3 separate regions of the Homo sapiens genome follow, and regions 1 and 2 are each reported to be linked to region 3. The links are microRNA targets in miRTarBase. Many come from high-throughput screens and were not tested one by one. Region 3 holds a microRNA gene; each other region holds the end of a gene's coding sequence.
The links. Region 3 holds the annotated microRNA hsa-miR-1-3p (UGGAAUGUAAAGAAGUAUGUAU, at 1,688-1,709, opposite strand). A microRNA usually pairs through its seed, bases 2 to 8, with sites in the 3' UTR of a target mRNA and lowers its output. Matches are read on the target gene's strand: a 7mer-m8 pairs with bases 2 to 8, a 7mer-A1 pairs with bases 2 to 7 and ends in A, and an 8mer does both.

Region 1 (4,000 bases), not on the chromosome of region 3:
CCACCTCCTTGGTTCAAGCAATCCTCCTGCCTCAGCCTCTTGAGTAGTAGCTGGGATCACAGGTACGTGTCACCACACCCAGCTTTTTTTTTTTTCCTTTTTTTGTAAAGATGTGGTCTCACTTTTGGAATATTCATAGAACGAAAAAAAAAAAAAAAAGATGTGGTCTCACTATGTTGCTCAGGCTCGTCTCAAACTCCTGGGCTCAAGTGATCCTCCTGCTTTGGCCTGTAATTGCTAATTCTATGGGGGAAAAAAAATCAGCTTATACAAGGAATTTATGTGAGATGACGTCTTATGGCTTCAAATTCATAAGAGATTTTGTAAACAAAGGGTCTCTGCAATTCAAAGCTTAACATATATGTGAAATACAGGACTCAAAACATCCGATATCAGTGTGATCAGGGTAAAGTGGTCACTGAGATGTCAAGTGATCAAATGAATAAACAGTCCAGTGTTTGCTGTCATCACACTCTTAGTTCCATTTGTTCCAGGCCATTGGATTAATCTAAATACCTATTCCACACATGTTCTGACCCTGGAGAGGGAGTTACTGAGGCACACAAAGATCTCAGATAAAATGCAGACACCAAAAACTAATCCTCTTACTGGAGATATATTGTTTTCATGCGTAGTTTGCAAAGAGGGCTGTTTATTGTGCCAGGCCCTTCCTTTCCATGCACTCATCCACACCAAGTTACATCCATCTCTTTGTGTCGGTTTCCTCAGCTTTAAAATAAAGATGATAATCACAGTACCTATGCTCACAGGAATACACGAGAAGATGGAATGAATTAATAATAGAAAGCACTAAGTAAGCATTTGTATATTATTACTTTATTATCAATACTTAGTAAAGTTGTAAGATTAACATATCAAAAGTTGGCCAGGCACAATGGCTCACACCTGTAATCCCCACACTTTGGGAGGCTGAGAAGGAGGATTGCTTAAGCCCAGGAGTTTGAGACCAGCCAGGGCAACACAGTGAGACTGTCTATACAAAAAAACAAAAACAAAAACAAAAAAACCCAAAAATTAGCCATATGTGGTGGCCCATACCTGTAGTCCTGGCTACTTGGGAGGCTGAGGCAGGAAGATCACTATCGCCCAGGAGTTCAAAATTCCAGTGAGCTATGATCACATGACTGCACTCCAGCCTGGGTAACATAGCAAGACCCTGTCTCTATTTAAAAAAAAATAAATAAATTTCTATGTGTAAAAAACCATTTGAAAATAGTAGAAGATTCAACCCACAAAGGAACTACAAAAATATTTTGACAATGTGCAGTAACTATATGAAGAAAATGAAGATTCTGAAGGTTATGAAGATTTAAATGAAAAGACATTTCACATTCCTGAATATCAAAGTTTCAATATTATAAAAGATGTTGATTTTTCCTAAGTTAACCTAGGAACAATGCAAATCCTATGAAAATACCAAAATGGCTTTTTTTGGGAACTCAACAAAAGGATACTAAAATTCATCTAGAAAAATCTGATAGAAAATTTCTGAAAAATAATAGTAATTTAGGTGGATTGAATAGGAACTTCTTCCACTACATATTGAAACATACCATGAATTGAAATAGGGAAAAAGAAATACAAAACAAACTGTAGGTCATTAAAAGAGAATCCAGAAATAGACCACAATACAAATGGAAATTTAGTCTATGATAATGGTGGTATTTCAGATTAGTTGGGGAAAGAGAGATTATCCAATAGGATCTGGTATAACATCTGGCTGTTTAGAAAGGAGTGAAGCTGGACCACTATGAAATACTCCATCAAGTCAGGGTTCTGTGCAGGAAACAAACTTCTCTAGATATTTCAAGCAGAAAGGCATTTAATACAGAGAATTAGGTCGTTACAAAAATCACTGAAAAAGCAGTAGGAGCAGAAACTGGAGACCCACGATCATTTTACCATCTGTGACCCAAAGGACAGGAAGCTAGTGCTGCTGCCACAGCATTAACTCATACCCACGAAGCAGGCGACAAGACACTAAAATGTGGAGTCTGGTTGCTACAAACAATTCCTGTCTGCGGGAGATTGCTTACTGGCATAGTAGATGGCCTCTGCCTCCAAATCTTGACCAAGTGCACATCATTGGTAGAATATAAACTGTTCAGACCTTACTTATCCTAGAACCTGAAAAACTTCATGTTTAGCCTTTCATCCCCTGTGGTATGGGGTAAGGAGGCATGGGACGTCATGCCAAGTACTAAGAGACAATATCTAGCACACATTCTTACACTAAAATCAATTCCAGATGGGTGAGTTACCTGTAAAAAAATAGAATGAATCTATCAAAAATTTATAATCCTGGAGTGTGGAAGGTATTTCTAAGTAGCATGTGAAATTCAGAAGCCAAAATGGAAAAGCGATGGATTTACTTAAATAAAAATTAAAAATGGATATCCATCAATATTTAAATGCACAAATCCCTTGACCACTGCTAGGAATTTACATTATGGAAATGTCTGTGTAAGTCTGCAAAGGTATGTACCCAAACAACGCAGCATTATTTATAAGAGCAAAACTCTGAATCAATAAAACTATGGTCTGCCATATGACAGAACACTATGAGGGCAAGTAAAAGAAGAGATTTGAAACAAAGATGTTCCCTTTGTTTAACAAAACACATCTGCAGACATATATTATCTAACCCTATATAGAGATTACGTTATTTTTGAAAAAGTCATTAGGAGTTATCTTGGTGGGAATATTACGGTAGATTCCTTTTCTTCTTTGTTACTCTAATTTAGAACTTTTAAAATTTGTAACTTTCCCCTCTCCCCTACAGAAAACACAAACCAGAATAATTTTTTAAATTCTATATTTATTTTCTCTTAGAATGTTCATGATTTTTGGTTTTCTAATTTAAACATACATGATTTCAAAATTATATAAAATTGTGTTCTTTAGAAGTATGTGGCAAAACAGTACACACTGTGAAATCACTCCATTTCTATTAATGACTGAATTATTTTACACATAAACTGAATTTTAGTTGAAAGAAAAACTACACTTAGAGGAAACAATTCTATCATACATATACATTTACAGTTTTTTACTTTTACAATCTCTTTATTTAAAATCATTCTTTCCCAAAAACTATACTTCAGCATGAGACTTTTAGATATAAGTATCCAATGGGTAATTAGTATGTACATAGGTGGCTGTGAAAAATTACCCACAACTCTAATATATTCTCCTCCAAAGGTGAAAAAATTTCCTTTTAGAAAGCACTTTAACATTTCTTCTCATCATCTACAAAGCAGCAGCAATATTTAAATTATCAAAAATGACAAATCCAGTAATAATCATAAACAGTTCCTTAAGAAATGTATTTGAAAAGCCATTATTCCATAAAATATTTACATTGTTTAAATTACATGACAGCAACATTTTCTTTCTATTTTAGTTCAACATATTAGTAAGAATCTCTAAACCCTCCAAAAAGAAATGCTATTCATCTTTAATTAAGGAGACTTTATCCTTGGGTTTATTCAGCATCTTTATATCATCCAACAGCTTTTTGGGTGTTAAAACATGTGTAGAACCTGGTAGGAGAAAAGAGAATTTTTCAGAGGCCAGCAGTTAAATCAATTTTCCTTCGCTTAATATAATGTGTTGTCCTTCAAATATGTAAAGTGCAGTAGCCTGGGGTAATGTAACAAAATTTCTGTAAGACATCTTCCTGAAATCTGCCTATGCTGCAATATTTCAATCCTTCTTCACCACTGAGCATGTTCAGTAACTTTTCAGAAACAGCGGCCATTCCTAGTGCTTTGTCTACTTTGTGCTATACGTTGGTATAATGAAGGGCAAAACGGGATTATCCTATCCTCAGCACTATAACAGTTATTGTTCAATAATAGAGATCCACTAAGCAGTGCTGCAGGTCAAGGCTTAACACACAGATCCATCGCCTCCATGGGTCAGGAGAGTTTACCTATCATTGGCTTTGACTGAAATTCTTATTTTTTAATTTTTTGTA
Region 2 (4,000 bases), not on the chromosome of region 3:
AAAACAAAACAAAACAAAACAAAAAAAAACCGTAGTCAAAGATGGCTGGGTAAACTCCAGGAATCATGTCTGTGTACCACAGCTATAAGGAGGGTGGAAGGGGAAGGGGAAGAAAAAGGTACAGGATGCAGGCCTGCTATATTTTAAAGAGGTTCCTGGGCAGGGCGCAGTGGCTTACACCTGTAATCCCAGCACTTTGGGAGGCAGAGGCCAGCGGATCACCTGAGGTCAGGAGTTCGAGACCAGCCTGTCCAACATGGTGAAACGCTGTTTCTATTAAAAATAACAAAAACTAGCTGGGCGTGGTGGCAGGTAATCCCAGCTACTCGGGAGGCTGAGGCAGGAGAATCACTTGGACCTGGGAGGTGGAAATTGCAGTGAGCCGAGATTGCACCACTGCACTCCAACGTAGGTGACAGAGCAAGACTCCATCATCTCTCCAAATAAAAAAAAAAAAAAAAAAAAGAGGTTCCTAAGAAACTGACGCCTAACACCTCTGCTTACATCACTTGCGGGGGCAGATCTTGTTAGCTGCAAGGGATGCAGAGAAACAGTGTTTATTCCGGCCTGCCATGTACCCACCTAAAAGTTGTAGGTTTTAATTCTCAGGAAGAGAATGGAGAAAATGAGACAGTTCTAACATAAATACCCTGTCTCTGTAACTGCCTAATCTGCTCTCTTCGTCTGTAATGCTTGTCACCCTTCCCTGAATAAATTATAATCATCCTTTGAAGACCAGCCCAAATGTCACCTCCAGACCCCTAAAGGTACAAGGAATCATTGCCTTCACTGTTCTCAGGCATTCTGCACGTTCCTCCAGATCTTGAAGCGTGGTGTTACAAACATTCCTGTATGCCTGCTCTTAGAGTGGGCACCAGGGGCCTGCTCCTTCACCAGGACTCAGGCTCACCACTCTCCCTAAACCCCAACCTTATGGATTCCCCTTGAAGAATCCTATTTTTTTTTTTGAGACAGAGTCTCTCTCTCTTGCCCAGGCTGAAGTGCAGTGGCGTGATCTCAGCTCACTGCAACCTCCGCCTCCCAGGTTCAAGTGACTGTCCTGCCTCAGCCTCCTGAGTAGCTGGGACTACAGGCATGTACCAGCACGCCTGTCTAATTATAGGTGTGAGACACCTCACCTGGCCTAAAGAACCTAATCTTAATTTTACTCCTGTGGCCTCTGGCAGCCTTCCCTCCTTCTAAGGCTTTTTTCACTTGCCTGCACTGATCATCTGTACAATCACTTGTCCCACTAACCTAGAGGACAGGGACCAGGAAAGAGTTGGGGCTGATCTTGAGCCCAGAAGGTGGCAAATATTCCCCAGAGGGCAATGCAGACCTTTCCCAGCCCCAGGCTGAAGCTGAGTCCTTTTTTCCAGCGGACATAAAAGATGCTTCCAAAGAAAAGATGATTATGCTGGGAGTCCATGTTCAAACTGGCATGCAATTAAACCTTCTGGCCGGGTGTGGTGGCTTACGCCTGTAAACCCAGCACTTTGGGAGGCCGAGGTGGGTGGATCACGAGGTCAGGAGTTCAAGACCAGCCTGGCCAACATAGTGAAACCCCATCTCTACTAAAAATACAAAAATTAGCCAGGTGTGGTGGCATACACCTGTAGTCCCAGCCACTCGGGAGGCTGAGGAAGGAGAATCGCTTGAACCCAGGAGGTTGAGGCTGCAGCGAGCCAAGATCGCCCACTGCACACCAGCAAGGGCAACAGTGTGAGACTTCGTCTCAAAAAAAAAAACAAACATTCCGAGCCAGTTTTTTCCATATTGCTCCACTGCCTAAAATCCCTTGGTGCCTCCCTAGGGCTTCAGGGTAAGCCCTGACATCATGGTCCTTTGTGATCTGTACCTCACCCATGTCTCCCACCTCAGTTCCCACATTTCCCCCACGTCTAAGGCAGCAGCTACACTTGACTGCAGTTCCCTGAGTGCCAGGCTCTCAGGCCTCTAAACTCTCATGTGCTGTTGGCTTTGCTTGGTACGCAGTTTCCTGCTCGGTTTTCAAGACTGGCTGTGGGAGACACTTCCTCTAGGAATCCTTCCTTGATGCCCTCGGGCAGAACTGGGGCCCCTGTGTGTCCTCTCAAGGCCCTCTGAACACCTCCATGTCAGTGACCTCATCATTATACTATACTGGTCAATCTTGCACTAGGCTAAGCAACCTGAGGGCCAGCAGCACTTCTTTCATTGGTATCCTTAGCTTTGGGCACACACTAGGCACTCAATAAATACGTCCTGAATGAGGCTCCTGAGTGCAGGGTACAGAGGGCCAGGTGATAAGGGAGACACCCTGAAGCCTCTGTTCTTTGCTTTGAGCAAATGAATCGTGAAGCAAATACCAAAAAGTCACGTCAAGCTCTTCTCTCGGCCTGAATAAAGCTCACTCATTTGTGAGAGCCCACCTTCAAACTTCACCTCAAGGAAGCATACCCCTGTCCCTGGGGCCTAGGGCAAGATCTTTATTCTGCTCTTACAGCACCCCACATATCTTCTTTACAGCATTAGTCACTATGGTAATTACTGTGAGATTGTTTAATGCACGGTTTATCAACGACCTCATGAACATTGAACATTTGGGGCTAGATTTTTTTTTTTTTTTTGATATAGGGTCTTGCTCTGTTGCCTAGGCTGGAATGCAGTGGCATGATCATGGCTCACTGCAGTCTAGACCTCCCAGGCTCAGGTGATCCTCCCACCTCAACCTCCCGAGTAGCTGGGACTACAGGTGCACAGCACCATACCTGGCTAATGTTTGTATTTTTTGTAGAGATGGTGTTTCACCACGTTACCTAGGTTGACCTTGAACTCCTGGGCTCAAGTGATCCGCTTGCCTTGGCTTCCCAAAGTGCTGGGATTACAGGTGTGAGCCACCGCGCCAGGCCTTGGGTAATTCTTTGTTGCAGTAGACTGTTCTGTGTCCTGTGGTGGGTTTAACAGCAGCACTCACTCTGCCTGCTAGATGCCAGTAGCAACCTCCTTCATAAGCTGTGATAGCCAGAAATATCCCCAGACATTGTCAAATGTCTCCTGGGGGTAAAATTGCCTCTGGTTGAGAACCACTGGTATATTGTCTATGTCTCCAGTTAGAAGGGCAGTTCCATGAGAGTGAAGACCCCACGTCCAAGTTCCTCAGGGCCCTGATGACCTCAGCCTGGCATTCACTCTTCCATGCAGCTGATCCTCCCCAAGCCCTGGACTGGGCCGCAGGCTACCTGAGAAGCACATCAAAGCGTTTGTTCTACAGGACCCTCGTCTGTGGGCTTGTGCAGCTTGGGGCCAGGGATGGTGGCCTACTGGCCTTTGCACTGCCAGTACCCACCCAGGCTTTGCTTTCAGGGTGGTCAGAAAATGATTACTGGGGGAACACATGACAGAAAAGCAGGAAGGGGGCCTCTTGGTGCTGTGAGCTGACCAGTGCACAGTGTTGGTCCTTCTCGACAGGGATGACTTCTACTTTTTGGAAGGGAGAGTTCAGACTTTATTAGATACCTTAAGGCTGGCCCTGGGGAAAACCGTGGCTGGCTTCACCATCCTCCTAATAGGAAGAGGCAGTGAGGAGAACAGTAGTCTGGGGAAGGTGGGAGCCCCAACTGAGGGGCCTGCACCCAGCCCCTCAGATCCGCCTCCCCTCCCATGTCACTCCAGCTCTTTTGGGATGATCACATGGTGAGAATCTGCTTTGAAGATATGAAGGGCTTCATGGAGGCTTCCAAGGCAGACTGGTAGTCCTGCAGCGGGACCTGGGAGCAGGCAGGGGCTGTGAGCTGGCCTCGGCGGATGAGATCGCACAGTGTGAGGATCAGCTCCTTGAACTGGTCTGCGGGAGGTTGGAGGAAATCAGACAAGAGAACAGCAGCTGGGGCTTGGTGAGATGTGGCACGGGGCTGCCCTATGGGCAGGAGCTGGCACCAAGCTCCAATAAAGCCTTGAGAGTCCTGGCTGTGCCAAGGATAGGGTGGCTGTGGAGGCAGCCTGGTCCCTGCCTGTCTTT
Region 3 (4,198 bases):
AGCAGGCAGGGAAGAGATGACGTCAGCGGATGCTGGGCACTGACCCTCCGGGTCCAGAGGCCGAGAGGAGGCTGTGCCCGAGGTCAACACCCGCCCCCTTGCTGCTACGCCAGATGGGGCTGAGGCTGGGAGAACGAAGTTTCCAGAAGGAAGACCTGAAGGCCAGGAGCCCTGACTGCCAGGCCCTCCCCTCCAGTCACCTCGAGGCTCCCTGAGGGGTGGGAGCCACCTGAAAGCTCAGAACGGCCCCCAATCCCTTTATCCAGCGCTCCCTATGCTGGCCCCAGCTGCTCAGGTGACCTGGCTGCCCCCAGACCCAAGGCCTCCAGCCGCTGCAGGAGGGGGCTGCCTGCCTGTCCCTTCCCGCCTCATTCCTGCCGAAGGCCAGGGTGCGGGAGGTAGGGCACAGGGGCACCGCTGTGGCTGGAGCAGTGCCAAGGCAGAGAGGACACACACCCCAGAAATTAATCCTGAGGCCTGTGGCAGGGTGGGGGTGCCCAGGCAGGGACCTGGCCTCATCCCAGGTGGCAAACGCCTCCAATCTGAGACTCAGAAACGAGCCGGGCAAACGCCCCTCACACAGCAGCCCAGCCGCTGCCTAAGACCCCAGAACCCGCCGCCCATCCTCTCCTTGAAGGACCAGCACTGGGGAAAAGGGTTTCACGGACGGATCCGGACCTGCCCTCATCCCCTGGGCCCCAGGACATCCTCCCAGTCCTTTCTCGGGTCAGGACTGGGATGGCGGCAGAGCAGATGGCTCTCAGGCCCCCGACAGGTGGGGCAAGGGGCCCTGGGCCACACGCTGCTTTCTGCCAAAGCCTCACCTGCATTCACAGCAAAACATGCCTCAGGTTGGATTCGGCGGAACAGAGAGAAAGCTGAACCGGGGCTTTGGTGGGGGTACAGGTTGGGGCGGCATGAACCAGACATTTGGCAAAATCGAACGGCTCCCAGGCCCCTGGGGTGGGCTGTGGGTTCAGGGCTGCACAGACTCAGCTCCTCTGACCCTGTCCCAGGTGCCCTCGGCAGAGGAGTGGGGCCTAAGGGCAGTGGTGGCCCTGACCCTGCCCGCGTCCCCAGCATCTCGTGTGGGCTGCGCCTTCCTTGGAGGCTACATGCCTCCGAGTTCCTCTGCCTTGCCCTACAGCCGGGAGGGCTGGATGCAGGTGCAGGAGGTGCCTTCCCTCCGCAGACTCTACCATGTGCTGCCCAGCCTCTCCCTCCTTTCTGCATCCAGCCACCTGCCCTTTTCCAAACTCGCTCTTGTCTTGTGCCTCTGAGCAGTTTCTGCCCTGGCCACACGTGGCCCTTTCTGCCGGCTGATGGCCTCTTCCAGGATGGCCATCAGTGGAGCCCCCAGAGCCGCCGCCACCACTCCGTGCTTTCCAGCCACGGCCCCGACCCCCCAGCCCTCACCAGCCCCGCGCTGGACCCCGCGCCTGCCGGAGGCCGCCTCCCCTCTGCCGCAGTCAGCAAGCTGAATATTTAATGTCTGGTGAGCACTTCCACCTGCTGACACAGGCAAAGTGACAGAACAATGCTGGCGGGGACACGACCGTCCACCAACGCCCAGGCAGCCTGCCGCCCCAGCCTCACCCCCACCACAGCCGCCTGGCTGGCTGTCGGCCGCGGCGGCCCCCGTGGTGTGGAGTGCCCCTCAGTGCGGCGAGAGAGGTCCCGGCCTGAGATACATACTTCTTTACATTCCATAGCTTAGCAGGTCCATATGGGCATATAAAGAAGTATGTTTCCCAAGCAGGCAGTCTGCATGCAGTTCCAAGACCCCGGGACGCCGCCCCGGTAGAAGCTGACCCCACTGCGATGTAGAGAAGGCAGCTCAGAGGCAGTGTAACTTCTTCCCTGGAGTCTACTGCCGGAGCCCTCTCTGTGTGAGCAGGACAGCCTTCCTGCCACTGCTGCCTGGTGTCCAGCCACCCCCAGGGGCCCAGGACTCCCTGCCCCCTTCTGACCTCGGCGCCCCTCCATCCCTGAATCCATCTCTCTCTGTCTGTCTCACACACTCACACGATCCAGAAAGGCAGAAGTGGACAGTGAGCCCCAGAAAGTCTCGAGCGCCTGTCCCTGGCCCCAGCAGTAGCTCGGTTTTGCGTCCATGGAAGAGACAGGCTGCCCCTCCACCCTCACCCCAGAGCAGGGAGGCATCATCCATGTCCCAAACTTTCAAAGCCAACACTTTCCTGTCCCCCTGGGTCACCTCATCCCAGCCAAGCCCAGAGAGGGCTGGGTGGAGAGAGGAACCTTGGGGGGCGCCCTGCCCAGCACCCCACTCGCAGGACCAGCCTCCTCCTTCTCCGGGAGCTGGACAACTCCTTGCTCCTGAGGCCAGACGAGGAACTGCAGACCAGAGACCCGAGAGGTGTCCTGGGGGCTTACCTGGGCATCTGCTGGTTTCCTGGGCAGGTCCCTGGTGAAGGCTGCCTCCCGGGACCCCGTATCCATGAGGAAGGGCTCAGCACCTCTCTCCGAAGATGCAGGCGAGAAAGACGATGCTTGGAGGAGTCCAGGTTCCCAGAGGGTGGTCAGGATCTCCTGAGAGGCCGTCCACTAGGGGGGCAACTCCCTAGGTGCCTCAGCCTGGCCACAGCAGACACCCAGTGGGCGAGGGAGCGTCGCTCCCCCGGTTCTCTCCCTCCTTCTCTCGCTCTTCTTCACCCTCTCCCCCGTCCCCGCCTCGCAGCGTCACCACCCTGAACCGCCGCGCAGTGCGGCCCACCTGAAGCGGCAGCTGCGCAGAGCCAGCAGCTTACATGGGCACCGGGGGTCAGCAGCCACCGTCACCTGCCCAGCGCCACTGCCGTGGCACCCCCGGGAGGCTGGTCCCACACCTGGCTCTTTGTGGCCAGCCGCCCAGCCTCCACCAGCCCCTGATCAATACCAATTTACAGTCAAATGCAGGGGGCCGCCTTCCTGTTAATGAATTTCCCGGTGCTCACCAGCTCCTAATGAGCCTGTTAAAGAGGGTTTAAGTAAACTTAGCGAGTGGCAAACTAAGCACTTTGGAATACTTAATTGTATCGATATGTTTTTCATTGCGTTTAAAAATGTCTCTGAGTGGGAAGCAGAGGCTGCCTCCTTCCCTGCCAACTTCTATGACCAGCCGTGAAGCCAGACTCTGAAAAATGTGGAGAAAGAGCCAGAAGGAGACCAATGGGACCTCAAGGTTAGGCCCTCACCAGCAGGAAGGGAAGCCGCCCCGAACCTGCTGGGAGCGGGGAGAGGAGGAGGAGGAGGAGGAGGAGGCCTGCAGGGTTTCGAGGCCTCGCAGTGGCCCAGGGCGAGCCTGGCACGTGCGGTGGTGAGAGGTGGAAAGAAGGCTTTGCAGGTGCCTGGGGGGGACGGGGGCCAGGGAGGCGCCAGTTGGGGGTGCAGGCCGGGCACAGACACAGGAGGCTTGCTAAGCGGTGGGGTCCAGCTGGGCCCTGGCCCCTGTCCTGCCACTGACCCTGGCGTGGGGTGGGACAGCAGCCCCGGGACATGAAAGGACCTCCCGTTGTCCTCATCAGGAAGAGAGGTCCAACATGACTCTGTTGCTCCTCCAGGCAGCCCGTCCATGCGAGGGGACAGCCCGGAGCGAGTTGGTTCTCTCTTACCACCCAGGGCAGGGCAATGTCTCCGCAGAGCCTGCAGTGTGCAGAGGCCACTGAGCATGCTGTGGCTGTGTGGCAGTGGGTCTGCAGCTGGGCATGGCTGGGTTGGAGTTTCACGTGGGGGTGGGTGGGGGCGGGGGGTGGGGGTTGTGCTTAAGGCTCTGGAGGCATCCCCTCTACAAAGGAAGGAGCAAATGGCAGACAGAAGCAGAAGCTGATGTCCCATTTCCACGTAGCTGCTGTGATTTATCATTTTCACGTAGCCAAGGATACAAAAAGGGCACCCGACACCGCAGCCTGAGCTTCAACTTCGGGGGCACCTGGGTTCCGCCGCTCATCTGTGCCCTCCCAAGACCTCCGCAATAACCGTCCCCGGAGTCCAGGGAAAAGGCCTCCTCAACGTCCCCAGCTCCCTGGCACATGAGCTCTCAGAGCCTGGGACACTCCCGCAGCCTGGCTCAAGCCCCCACGACCTGTGAGGCATTCATCTGGACGGGGTCTGGGGGTCAAGGGGAAAGCTGGGAGTCCCAAAGGGCAGGAGAGTCACCCCAGACCCAGCCAGAGTCCACAGGACTTCTGCCCACTCACAA

Region 1: miRTarBase lists STXBP3 as a target of hsa-miR-1-3p. The part of its 3' UTR that is shown has no 7-base or 8-base seed match.
Region 2: miRTarBase lists MECR as a target of hsa-miR-1-3p. Seed matches in the 3' UTR shown: 7mer-A1 at 2,639-2,645.

The regions. Positions count from the first base shown.
Region 1 is chr1:108,808,346-108,812,345 of GRCh38, reverse strand. STXBP3 (syntaxin binding protein 3) reads right to left here. Exons shown (of 19, transcript NM_007269.4): 19 at 2,823-3,563. The coding sequence ends at 3,469. Among named protein-coding and RNA genes, the nearest start is that of AKNAD1, 47 kb to the left of the region's middle.
Region 2 is chr1:29,190,354-29,194,353 of GRCh38, forward strand. MECR (mitochondrial trans-2-enoyl-CoA reductase) reads right to left here. Exons shown (of 10, transcript NM_016011.5): 10 at 2,304-3,826. The coding sequence ends at 3,669. Among named protein-coding and RNA genes, the nearest start is that of SRSF4, 10 kb to the left of the region's middle.
Region 3 is chr20:62,551,862-62,556,059 of GRCh38, reverse strand. It overlaps MIR1-1 (microRNA 1-1), which reads right to left and starts at 1,754; the gene lies at 1,684-1,754. MIR1-1HG (MIR1-1 host gene) reads right to left here. Exons shown (of 4, transcript NR_171007.1): 2 at 2,395-2,595.